Regions from separate parts of the Homo sapiens genome. Here region 1 is linked to region 2. The links come from fine-mapping of genetic effects on gene expression. A gene starts in region 2. The other region holds a variant in brackets. All regions are shown on one strand. Distances are between the middles of the regions.

Evidence for each region. PIP is the estimated chance that this variant, and not a neighbour inherited with it, causes the effect. A credible set is the group of variants that fine-mapping cannot tell apart.
Region 1: its variant is the best candidate, but not a certain one, in a credible set for the expression of ADGRE1 in whole blood (TOPMed, PIP 0.56).

What each region holds. Positions count from the first base shown.
Region 1 is chr19:6,928,210-6,933,209 of GRCh38, reverse strand. ADGRE1 (adhesion G protein-coupled receptor E1) reads right to left here. Exons shown (of 21, transcript NM_001974.5): 17 at 4,999-5,000. All of the region lies in intron 1 of LOC105372256 (a long non-coding RNA gene), which reads left to right. Among named protein-coding and RNA genes, the nearest start is that of ADGRE1, 43 kb to the right of the region's middle. The variant T/C (reference allele first, on the strand shown) is at 2,411.
Region 2 is chr19:6,883,981-6,889,477 of GRCh38, reverse strand. ADGRE1 (adhesion G protein-coupled receptor E1) reads right to left here and starts at 1,899. Exons shown (of 21, transcript NM_001974.5): 1 at 1,839-1,899. The coding sequence starts at 1,869. RefSeq lists an enhancer at 1,846-1,905.

The sequences.
Region 1 (5,000 bases), 44 kb before region 2:
CGCTCTTGTCTCCCAGGCTGGAGTGCAATGGCGCAACCTCGGCTCACAGTAACCTCTGTCTCCCAGGTTCAAGCGATTCTCCTGCCTCAGCCTCCTGAGTAGCTGGGATTACAGGCGCGGGCCACCACACCTGGCTAAATTTTGTATTTTCAGTAGAGATGGGGTTTCACCATGTTGGCCGGGCTGGTCTCAGACTCCTGACCCGAAGTGATCTGCCTGCCTTGGCCTCCCAAAGTGCTGGGATTACAGGCATGAGCCACCATGTCTGGCCAACATCATCATAATTATTATTTCCATGATTGTTCATACCTAATATTTACTGCACTCTTGGCAATGCCTGGCATTGTACTAAGCATCTCACACATATGGTTTGTTCATCATCACCACCACCTCCATGAGAGAGGTCTAGAGGGGAGAACTTGGCATTTCAAGGAAGTAGAAAGTTGGCTGGTACAGCCAGAGGGCCGAGCAGGCAGGAAAAAGCCAGAAAGGGACCCTAGGGAAGTTGGGTAGGGCCAGGCAGTGAAGGATCTGAGGTGTCAGGCTCAGGGAGTGGACATCACCCTGAGTGCAATGGAGAAGCTATAGAACAGTTTCACACAGAAGAGCATCAGGATCAACTTTGAGTTTTAGGAATCTCACTCTGAAAATCCCTCTCGCTACAAAACACCAAAAATGCTGGAGGAACCCCAACAGATAGCCTTTTAAATTTATTTATTTATTTATTTTTATTTTATTTTTTGAGACCAAGTCTTGCTCTGTCACCCAGGCTGGAGGGCAGTGGCGCCATCTCGGCTCACTGCAAGCTCCACCGCCCAGGTTCACGCCATTCTCCTGCCTCAGCCTCCTGAGTAGCTGGGACTACAGGCGTGCACCACCACGCCTGGCTGATTTTTTGTATTTTTAGTGGAGACGGGGTTTCACCATGTTAGCCAGGATGGTCTCGATCTCCTGACCTCGTGATCCGCCTGCCTCAGCCTCCCAAAGTGCTGGGATTACAGGCATAAACCACCACGCCCGGCCCAGAATTTTATTTTCTAGTCCACCCTTTCAATAAGAATGGGGTCTTTATTTTATTTGGTGGACTCTACACCTTCTTCAGACCCTAGGGCTTGCCCATCCAACTCCACAAATGACCATTCAATCTCCAAGGTTTTAGATTCTTGATTTTAGGAAATACCCTTAGGGCAGCTACAGCATTCTGGTTCATTACTGCTGTCTAATTTATGGCCTCTGAAGATTTGTTTTTATTTTCTTAACGAGCTTAAGAGGCTGTCTGTTGGGGCCAGGCGCCCCAAGACCTTATTTGGAAATAGAATCTTTACAGAAATAATCAAGTTAAGATGAACTCATTAGGGCAGACCCTAATCTGACTGAAATATGACTAGTGTTCCTTTTTTTTTTTCTTTTTTTTGAGACAGTCTCCCTCTGTCACCCAGGCTGGAGTGCAGTGATGTTATCTCGGCTCACTGCAACCTCTCCCTCCAGGGGTCAAGTTATTCTTGTGCCTCAGCCTCCCGAGGCTGGGACTATTGGTGCCTGCCACCACGCCTGGCTCATTTTTTGTATTTTTCAGTAGAGACAGGGTTTTGCCATGTTGGCCAGGCTGGTCTCGAACTCCTGACTTCAGGTGATCCACCCGCCTCGGCCTCCCAAAATGCTGGGATTACAGGCATGAGCCACTGCACCTGGCCGGTGATCTTACAAATGGGAAAATTTGTTGGAGAGGGGTCTGGAACAGACCCTCCCTCGTGTTGTCATGGGGAGCGTGGCCCTGCCAATACCTTGATTTCAGGCTTCAAGCCTCCAGAACTGTGAAACAACAAGTCTCTGTTGTTCTAAGCCACCCAGCATGCAGTAGCTTATTACGGTGACCCCTGAAAATTAATACATGCCCCCCATTAAAAAAAATCTGATAGACATCAGCACAAAACCTCTGTGGAGGAATATAATTTCAAGCATTCCCAAGACTTAGATCAGTCAAGTAAACATTACAAATGAAACTAGGCACAGAAAGACACATTTCACATGTTCTCAGTTCTTTGTGGGAGCTAAACATTTAAAACAGGTGAACTCATGGAGCTAGAGAGTAGAACAGCAGTTACCAGAAGCTGGGAAGGATAGTGAAGGGGTGGGTGGGGAACAGGGAAGAGGGGATGGTTAATGGGTACAAAAAAATAGAAAGAATGAATAAGATCTAGTATTTGTTAGCAAAACAGGGTGACTATAGTTAATAATAATTGCATTGTAGATTTAAAAATAACCAGGAGAGGCTGGACACAGTGGCTCATGCCTGTAATCCCAGCACTTTGGGAGGTCGAGGCGGGTGGGTCACCTGAGGTCATGAATTCGAGACCAGCCTGGAAAACATGGCGAAATCCCGTCTCTACTAAAAATACAAAAAATTAGC[T/C]GGGCGTGGTGGCGCACACCTGTAATCCCAGCTACTCGGGAGGCTGAGGCAGGAGAATCGCTTGAACCCAGGAGGCAGAGACTGCAATGAGCTGAGATCATGCCATTGCACTGCAGCCTGGGTGACAGAGCAAGACTCTGTCTCAAAATAAAAATAAAAATAAACCAAACAATAAAACAAAACAAAAACCAGAAGAACATAATTGGATTGTGTGTAACACAAAGGACAAATGCTTGAGGGGACAGATACCTCGTTGACTCTGATGTGATTATTATGTATTCTGTGCCTGTATGAAAATATTTCATATACCCCATAAATATATACACTTACTTTGTGCCCACAAAAATTAAAAATAAAAAAAAATTTAATCCTCGAAAAATATGACAAAAGACATAAGGGAATGAGCCACCATGAGTGAGAGTCAGAAGAATCATCATCTGGCAGGGCTGTCAAGTCTGGATGGAGGTTGGGAGGCAAAGAGATGGGTGTTTAACATTCCCTGGCCTCCCTTTGCCTCGATCCACCATTTCCCTCTGTCATCTCACTCCTTCCCCCACAATTCCTCCTAATTTCTTTTTACTTTTTCTTTCATTCAACATCTGTGCCTAGGAGATGACATAGGATTTAAAAAAGATTTATTTAGGCAGATAGTGAGGGTAAGGAAGTCCTCGGTAAGGTTTTCCTTTTAATGAAAAGCAGCTCCCAAATCATTTTCTTTTCTAATGGAGAGCAGCCGGTAGAATCGAGCTATAGACATAGAAAGGCAAGCTAGAAGCTTGCATGGGTGAATGCTGGCAGTTGTGCCAATAGGAAAGCGGTTACCTGGGGAATAGGCATGTTCAAAATGGCAGCTCTGGCTGGGCGCAGAGACTCACGCTTGAAATCCCAGCACTTTGGGAGGCTGAGGCAGGTGGATTAACTGAGGTTAGGAGCCTGGTCAACGTGGTGAAACCCCATCTCTACTAAAAGTACAAAAATTAGCTGGTCATAGTGGCATATGCCTGTAATCCCAGCACTTGGGGAGGCCGAGGCAGGCAAACTACGTGAGGTCAGGAGTTTGAGACCAGCTTGGCCAACGTGGTGAAAACCCATCTCTATTAAAAATACAAAATTGCCGGGTGTGGTGGTGCGTGCCTGTAATCCCAGCTATTCGGGAGGCTGAGGCAGAATAATTGCTTGAACCCAGGAGGCAGAGGTTGCAGTGAGCCGAGATTGCACCACTGCACTCCAGCGTGGGTGACAGAGTGAGACTCCGTCTAAAAAAAAAGAAAAAAAAAATGGCAGCTCCGTCTTCCCTTTTCTTTGTAAACCATGTAGACAGTAAGGAGAAGACAACATGGTGCCAGCCAAGTAAAGACCCCATTTGCATAATAAAAGATCAGGGTGGGTGGCCAGCTTCCTCGCGCTCTACGTAAATGTCACACTGGGTCCAACCAATCTTTGGGCCCTATGTAAATCAGACACCGCCCCCTCAAGCCAGTCTAAAATCTGTTGCACTTTGCTGCGGGCCAGAAGTCCCACTCAGGAGGCCCTCTCTCTTGCAAGACACAGAGAGCTAGTCTCCTTTCTCTTTCTTTTGCCTATTAAACCTCTGCTCTTAAACTCACTCCTTGTGTGTGTCTGTGTCCTTGATTTCCTTAGCATGAGGCAACGAACCTCAGGCATTATTACCCCCAGACAATGACACTGCTTCAGAGAGACTCATGGACCTGTGCACAAGACGGATACAATTATGGTCCCTCCCAGGGGTATTTGCCTTTCAGAAGGAAAAACAAAATTCCCAAGTCAAAGAAATTACTCTGTAACTTCGAAATCTCAAGAATGAAGGATTGGAAGGGAGAACTTTTTTTTTTTTTTTTTGAGATGGAGTTTTGCTCTTGTTGCCTAGGCTGGAGTGCAATGGCGCAATCTCGGCTCACCGCAACCTCTGCCTCCCTGGTTCAAGCAATTCTCCTCTCCTGCCTCAGCCTCCTGAGTAGCTGGGATTACAGGCATGTGCCAACACACCCAGCTAATTTTGTATTTTTAGTAGAGATGGGGTTTCTCCATGTTGGTCAGGCTGGTCTTGAACTCCTGACCTCAAGTGATCCTGGGCCTCTCAAAGTGCTGGGATAACAGGCATGAGCCACCGCAACCTGGCCGATAACTTATTTATTTATTTTTTTTTTTTTGAGACGGAGTTTCACTCTGTTGCCCAGGCTGGAGTACAGTGGCATGAATTTGGCTCACTGCAACCTCCATGTCTCCTGGATTCAAGCGATTCTCCTGCCTCAGCCTCCTAAGTAGCTGGGATTACAAGTGCTCGCCACCACACCCAGCTAATTTTTTGTATTTTTAGCAGAGATGGGGTTTCGCCAAGTTGGCCAGACTGTTCTCGAACTCCTGACCTCAGGTGATCCACCCGCCTCAGCCTCCCAAAGTGCTGGGATTACAGGCGTGAGCCACCACGCCCGGCCTGGAAAGGAGAACTTTTGATGGGAATAAGTGACCCTCTCAGCTGCACACGTCCCTGGAAATTCCAGATCTCGCAGGTCTCCTTGCTCCTCCTTCAGAACACACTTCGCCAGGCTGTTGTAGTATTTGCTTACCA
Region 2 (5,497 bases):
ACCTCATGATCTGCCTGCCTCAGCCTCCTAAAGTGCTGGGATTACAAGCGTGAGCCACTGCGCCCTGCCCATTTTTTAGTGTTTAAAGGCAATGCAGCCCTGCAGCATTTAGGTCTCCTGCACCATCATCATTATCGCCATCATTATCACTATCATCATCACCATCATCATCTTCATCATCACCATCATCATCATCATTATTATCACCATCATCACCATTATCATCATCACCATCACCATTATCACCATCACCACCATCATCATCATCACCACCATAATCACCAACATCACCATCTTCATCGTCATTATCACACCATCATCACCACCATCATCATCATTATCCCTATCATCACCATTATCATCATCACCATCATCACCATCTTCATGGTCATTATCACACCATCATCATCACCATCATCTTCATTATCACTATCATCACCATTATCATCATCATCATCATCACCATCACCATCATCATCACCATTTTCATCATCACTATTATAACCACCACCATCATGATCATTATCATCACTATCATTATCACAACTCTTTGCTGATTATCTTCAGGGCAGAATAGGGAGTGTTAATGGTTAATACCATTGCCAACACCCCAAAATAACAACTCTGCATGCCTACATTTGATGTCCACAGGCCACCTATTTCTTCTAATGTAGCCTGCCAGTCAACAAGTCCCACAGATCTAAACTCCCAAATTCTATCTATTATTACTAACAAAAATTCTTCTACTCATTCATTAATTATTTTAGAGGTAATTCAGCATGCTGTTTAGGCATACAAAGTCTGAAGTCAAAGTGCTTAGGTTTAAAAATCTGGCTTCACCAATTAATGATTGCGTGGCCTTGAGGAAGTTATTTAATCTCTTTGTGCCTCAGTTTCCTCCTTGGTAAAATAGGGTATTCAGATCCACTCTTCAACAGCAGAGGAAACCCATACTTGCTACTTAGAATATGTCCCCAATATCCTCCATTCTTAAATTTGATCCAATGACCAAAACACACAAGACATAGAAGAAAAACCAGAAACACAGAAGATAAACAAGGCTGAGACAAACTGACACCTGAAGAAAGAGAAATAAGAGCACAGGAAGGGTCTATCTCATCCTTCAGGACTCAGCTCGAACTGCCCCTCCTCAACCCCAGACTTCTCCCTTCAACATAACTCCCGACCACATTCTATAACAACTTCTTTCATAGCACTTATCACTACCTGAAATTCCTATGTTTACTTATTTTTTGGGGCAACATAGTATAGTGGAAAAGCTTACAGACTCTGAAGTCAGACTGTCTGGCTTGAAATCCTGCCTCTACCCCTTATTGACTAAGTGGCCTTGGGAAAATTATTTTATCTCTTTTGCCTCAGTTTTCTCATTTGCAAAATAGGACTAATAATGACCCAATGTCATAGAAATGTTGTGACAATTGGATACACTCTATGTTTAAAGAAGTTACAGCAGTGCTAAGTGGGCTATGATCATCTGTGCCTTCTTTCCTGTCTGCTCCTACCCACTAGAATATCAGCCTCAAGAGTGCAGGAACTTAGTCTTTTTTTCTCACTGCTATATCCTCTAGTGCCTAGAACAGCACCTGACACACAGGACTTGCTCAGGTCAAATGAATGACTATAGAGAAAAATCTATCCTAACAGATGGACTTCCCTGAGCTATGGAATTTTGTCAAAGGTTCCCTGAATGAAGGTGTTTGCAGCATCCAGTCTGGACTTATGATCTCTTGGCTGGACCATCCATGGCCCTCCCATTTCTCCTGAAGTCTATTTCCAATCCAGGCCTCCCCTAGCCCCCCATTCAGCCTCACACTCACCCCAGAAGAGGAGCAGGTTGAAGCCACGCATTATGCTGTAGTTCTGTCATTCAAAGAAAAGAAACTTTTCTACTAACGCTGGGTTTTCAGTAACCAGAAGGTGTGCGAAGAGGGGAAGGCGGAGTCAGAGTTGCTCAATGCTGCCTGGTCATCATAGCCCTTTTTGCTGACTTGCTGCAACTAAAAGACAGCCTAGAAAATCCTAATTTCCCCCTTTCTTCACAATAAAGAGAAGTTAATCTGCCTAATGTATATCATTCTCTCTCTCTCTCCTTCCCATGGTCTCTCCCTTTTTCTTTCCCATCAACATCTATCTCCCATCTCTCAACACCTTCTTTCATTGCACCCAATAAAGGAGCTTCCGCTTCCTGCCTCCAGTGAAGCAAATCTCAGCCTTTAGGGTCTCTTCCCAGTCTCCCGTATAAAGACAGCCATCACAACCATCATGTACCAGGCAGTGTGCTAGGCACATTGGCAACAAAGTGTAATTTCATTATCATGTTAACCTTGTAAAGTAGGAATTCCCCTCCCTCCCTCTATTCACCAACAAAATGGAAACTGAGACTTGCAGAGGAGTTATAACTTGTCCAAGATCTCTCAGACTTGAGATTTGAACCCAGGACCCTCTGATTCCAGAGTCAAGAGCTTTAACCATCTTATTTTCCTTCAGATCTCAACTCTGTCTGACGATTATACAGCAACACTTCCACCCCATTCCCAGCTTCCTAACTCTCTCTGGTAACATCTTAGGGTCTCACAAGGGCAGACCCTCAGACAAGGATTCTAGCAAAAGTAGTTTATCAAGAAGGTGGCCCCAGAAAGCACCAGCTGGGGGAGGAGAAAGTGAATCAGGAAAGGCAAAGAGCCAATACTGGGTGTGTCTTCAAATAAGTTACATGGTGAGAAAGTGGAACTTAACCTCCCCAGGGATGACTGGGGAGCGGCATGGAACATACTCTTCAGTTATTCCAACCGAGGGGTGAGGGAGCTGAGGTATTTATATCCCACCTACTGTCAGTCATGGGTTGACTTGAGGCTTGCTCCTAGAGGGTGTCAACCCCTTGAATCTTCAGGCCTGGCCTCCAAGCAGATAGAATGGGCTCCAGTTGATGTAATCCCACTGATAACAAAGTGTAGTGACTGGCAGATATTGAAGCAGTGTCATCCATCTGGGGTAATACCCGAGGTTCATTGCCTCACACCAAGGAAATAGAAAATACAGACATGGCCGGGCACCGTGGCTCACACCTGTAATCTCAGCACTTTGGGAGACTGAGGAGGGTGGATTACGAGGTCAGGAGTTCAAGACCAGCCTGGCCAAGATGGGGAAACCCCGTCTTTACTAAAAATACAAAAAATCAGCCAGTGTGGTATGGTGTTAGGCACCTGTAATCCCAGCTACTCCGGAGGCTGAGGCAGAGAATTGCTTGAACCCAGGAGGCGGAGGCTGCAGTGAGCCGAGATCGTGCCACTGCACTCCAGCCTAGGCAACAGAGTGGGACTCTGTCTTAAAATAAAATAAAATAAAATAAAATAAAATAAAATAAAATAAAATAAAATAAAATGCAGACACACAAAAAATTACTTTTAGAGCAGAGGTTTAGGCCGAGCACAGTGGCTCATGCCTGTAATCCCAGCACTTTGGGAGGCTGAGACGGGTGGATCACCTAAGATCAGGAGTTTGAGACCAGCCTGGGCAACATAGTGAAACCCCATCTCTACTAAAAATACAAAAATTAGCCAGGTGTGGTGGCTCATGCCTGTAATTCCAGCTACTCAGGAGGCTGAGGCAAGAGAATCGCTTGAACCCGGGAAGCAGAGGTTGCAGTGAGCCGAGATTGTGCCATTGAACTCCAGCCTGGGTGACAGAGCAAGACTCCATCTCAAAAAAAAAAAAAAAAAGAAAGAAAGAAAAGAAATTTAATAGGCGAGAGAAAGAGAAAAGCTCTCTCTCCTGCAAAGAGAGGGGGCTCCCAAGTGGGTCTTCCAGTTTCATGGTGAAATGCACGGGGTTTTATAGATGAGCTTTAGGTGGTGATATCTGATTTACATAAGGGCCCAAAGATTAGTTGGACCAGGTGTGCCGTTTACATAGAGTACAAAGAAGCTGGCTGCCCACCCTAATATTTTATTATGCAGATGGGGTCTCTACCTGGCCAGGACCATGTTGCCTGTTCCTTTACCGTACACGTGGTTGATAAAGAAAAGGGAACATGGAGCAAGCCTGCATGTTGAACACGCCTGGCACCCAGGTAGCCTATTCCCATTGGCACAGCTGCCGGCATTCACCCGAGCAAGCTTCCAGCTTGCTTTTCTATGTCTGCCGGCTGATTTTTCAGACTGCTCTTTTTTAGAAAAGAAATTATTTGGCCGGGCGCGGTGGCTCACGCCTGTAATTCCAGCGCTTTGGGAGGCCGAGGCGGGTGGATCACAAGGTCAGGAGTTTGAGACCAGCCTGACCAACATGGTGAAACCCCGTCTCCACTAAAAATACAAAAATTAGCCGGGCATGGTGGCATGCGCCTGTAATCCCAGCTACTCGGGAGGCTGAGGCAGGAGAATTGCTTGAATCCGGGAGGCGGAGCTTGCAGTGAGCCGAGATTGTGCCGCTGTACTCCAGCCTGAGCGACAGAGCAAGACTCTGTCTCAAAAAAAAAAAAATAAAATAAAATAAATGATTTGGGGGCTGCTTTTTATTAAAAGGCAAACCTTACCGAGGACTCTCTTGCCCTCACTCTCTGCCTAAATAACTTCTTTCTAGCTCCCGTATCAGCGTTAAGCTAGGGCATATTAATGTGTTGTTAGGTTATGGGTGTGGGCAGCCACTGATAGCAGCTGTCACAAGGTACAAAGGAGGTGCATAGAACATCCCCGAATTCTTAGAAAGAAAAGCTCCACGTGTTTTTGCCTTCCCCTTTTGTTCTTTGCAAAGCAAACTACCAGCTTTGGAGTTATTGTCACTGGAACAAAGATTCACCAATGGCTTTCTTTTTTTATTTTATTTTATTTTTTTTTCTGAGATGGACTCTCGCTCTGTCACCCAGGCTGGAGTGCAGTGGCGTGATCTTGGCTTACTGCAACCTCCGCCTCCCGAGTAGTTTCTGGGATTACAGGCGTGTATTACCATGCCCAGCTAACTTTTGTATTTTTAGTAGAGACGAGGTTTCACCATGTTGGCCAGGCTGGTCTGGAACTCCCGACCTCAGGTGATCCTCCCACCTTGGCCTCCCAAAGTGTTGGGATTACAGGCCTGAGACACCGCGTCTAGCCAGATTCATCAGTGGCTTTCTGTTTGTGCCTTCATTCTTTCCCCGTTGGCCCCAAGAATACTAGCTGGTGGCGCTTGTGGCTGCAGCATTTACCCAGAGATAACTTTGCCGTGAAATATCTCACCTTTATTATTATTTTTGCATTGCTCTAGTGTATCAACTTTGAAAACAAAAGACATGATTCTATTTATAGTGTTCTGTTTTTAGTAGGGATATTTCCAGATTACTATATTTTACAAAATATGGTATTTTTTACTATATACTATAGTATATTTTACAAAATACAGTAATTCTTGATTGCTGAAAATGTCAGATCCTAGAAAAGTGTAGCATTCCTACGCATGATGTTACTATCATTCTCAAACAGTTGTTGGCTGAAAATTTATCTGA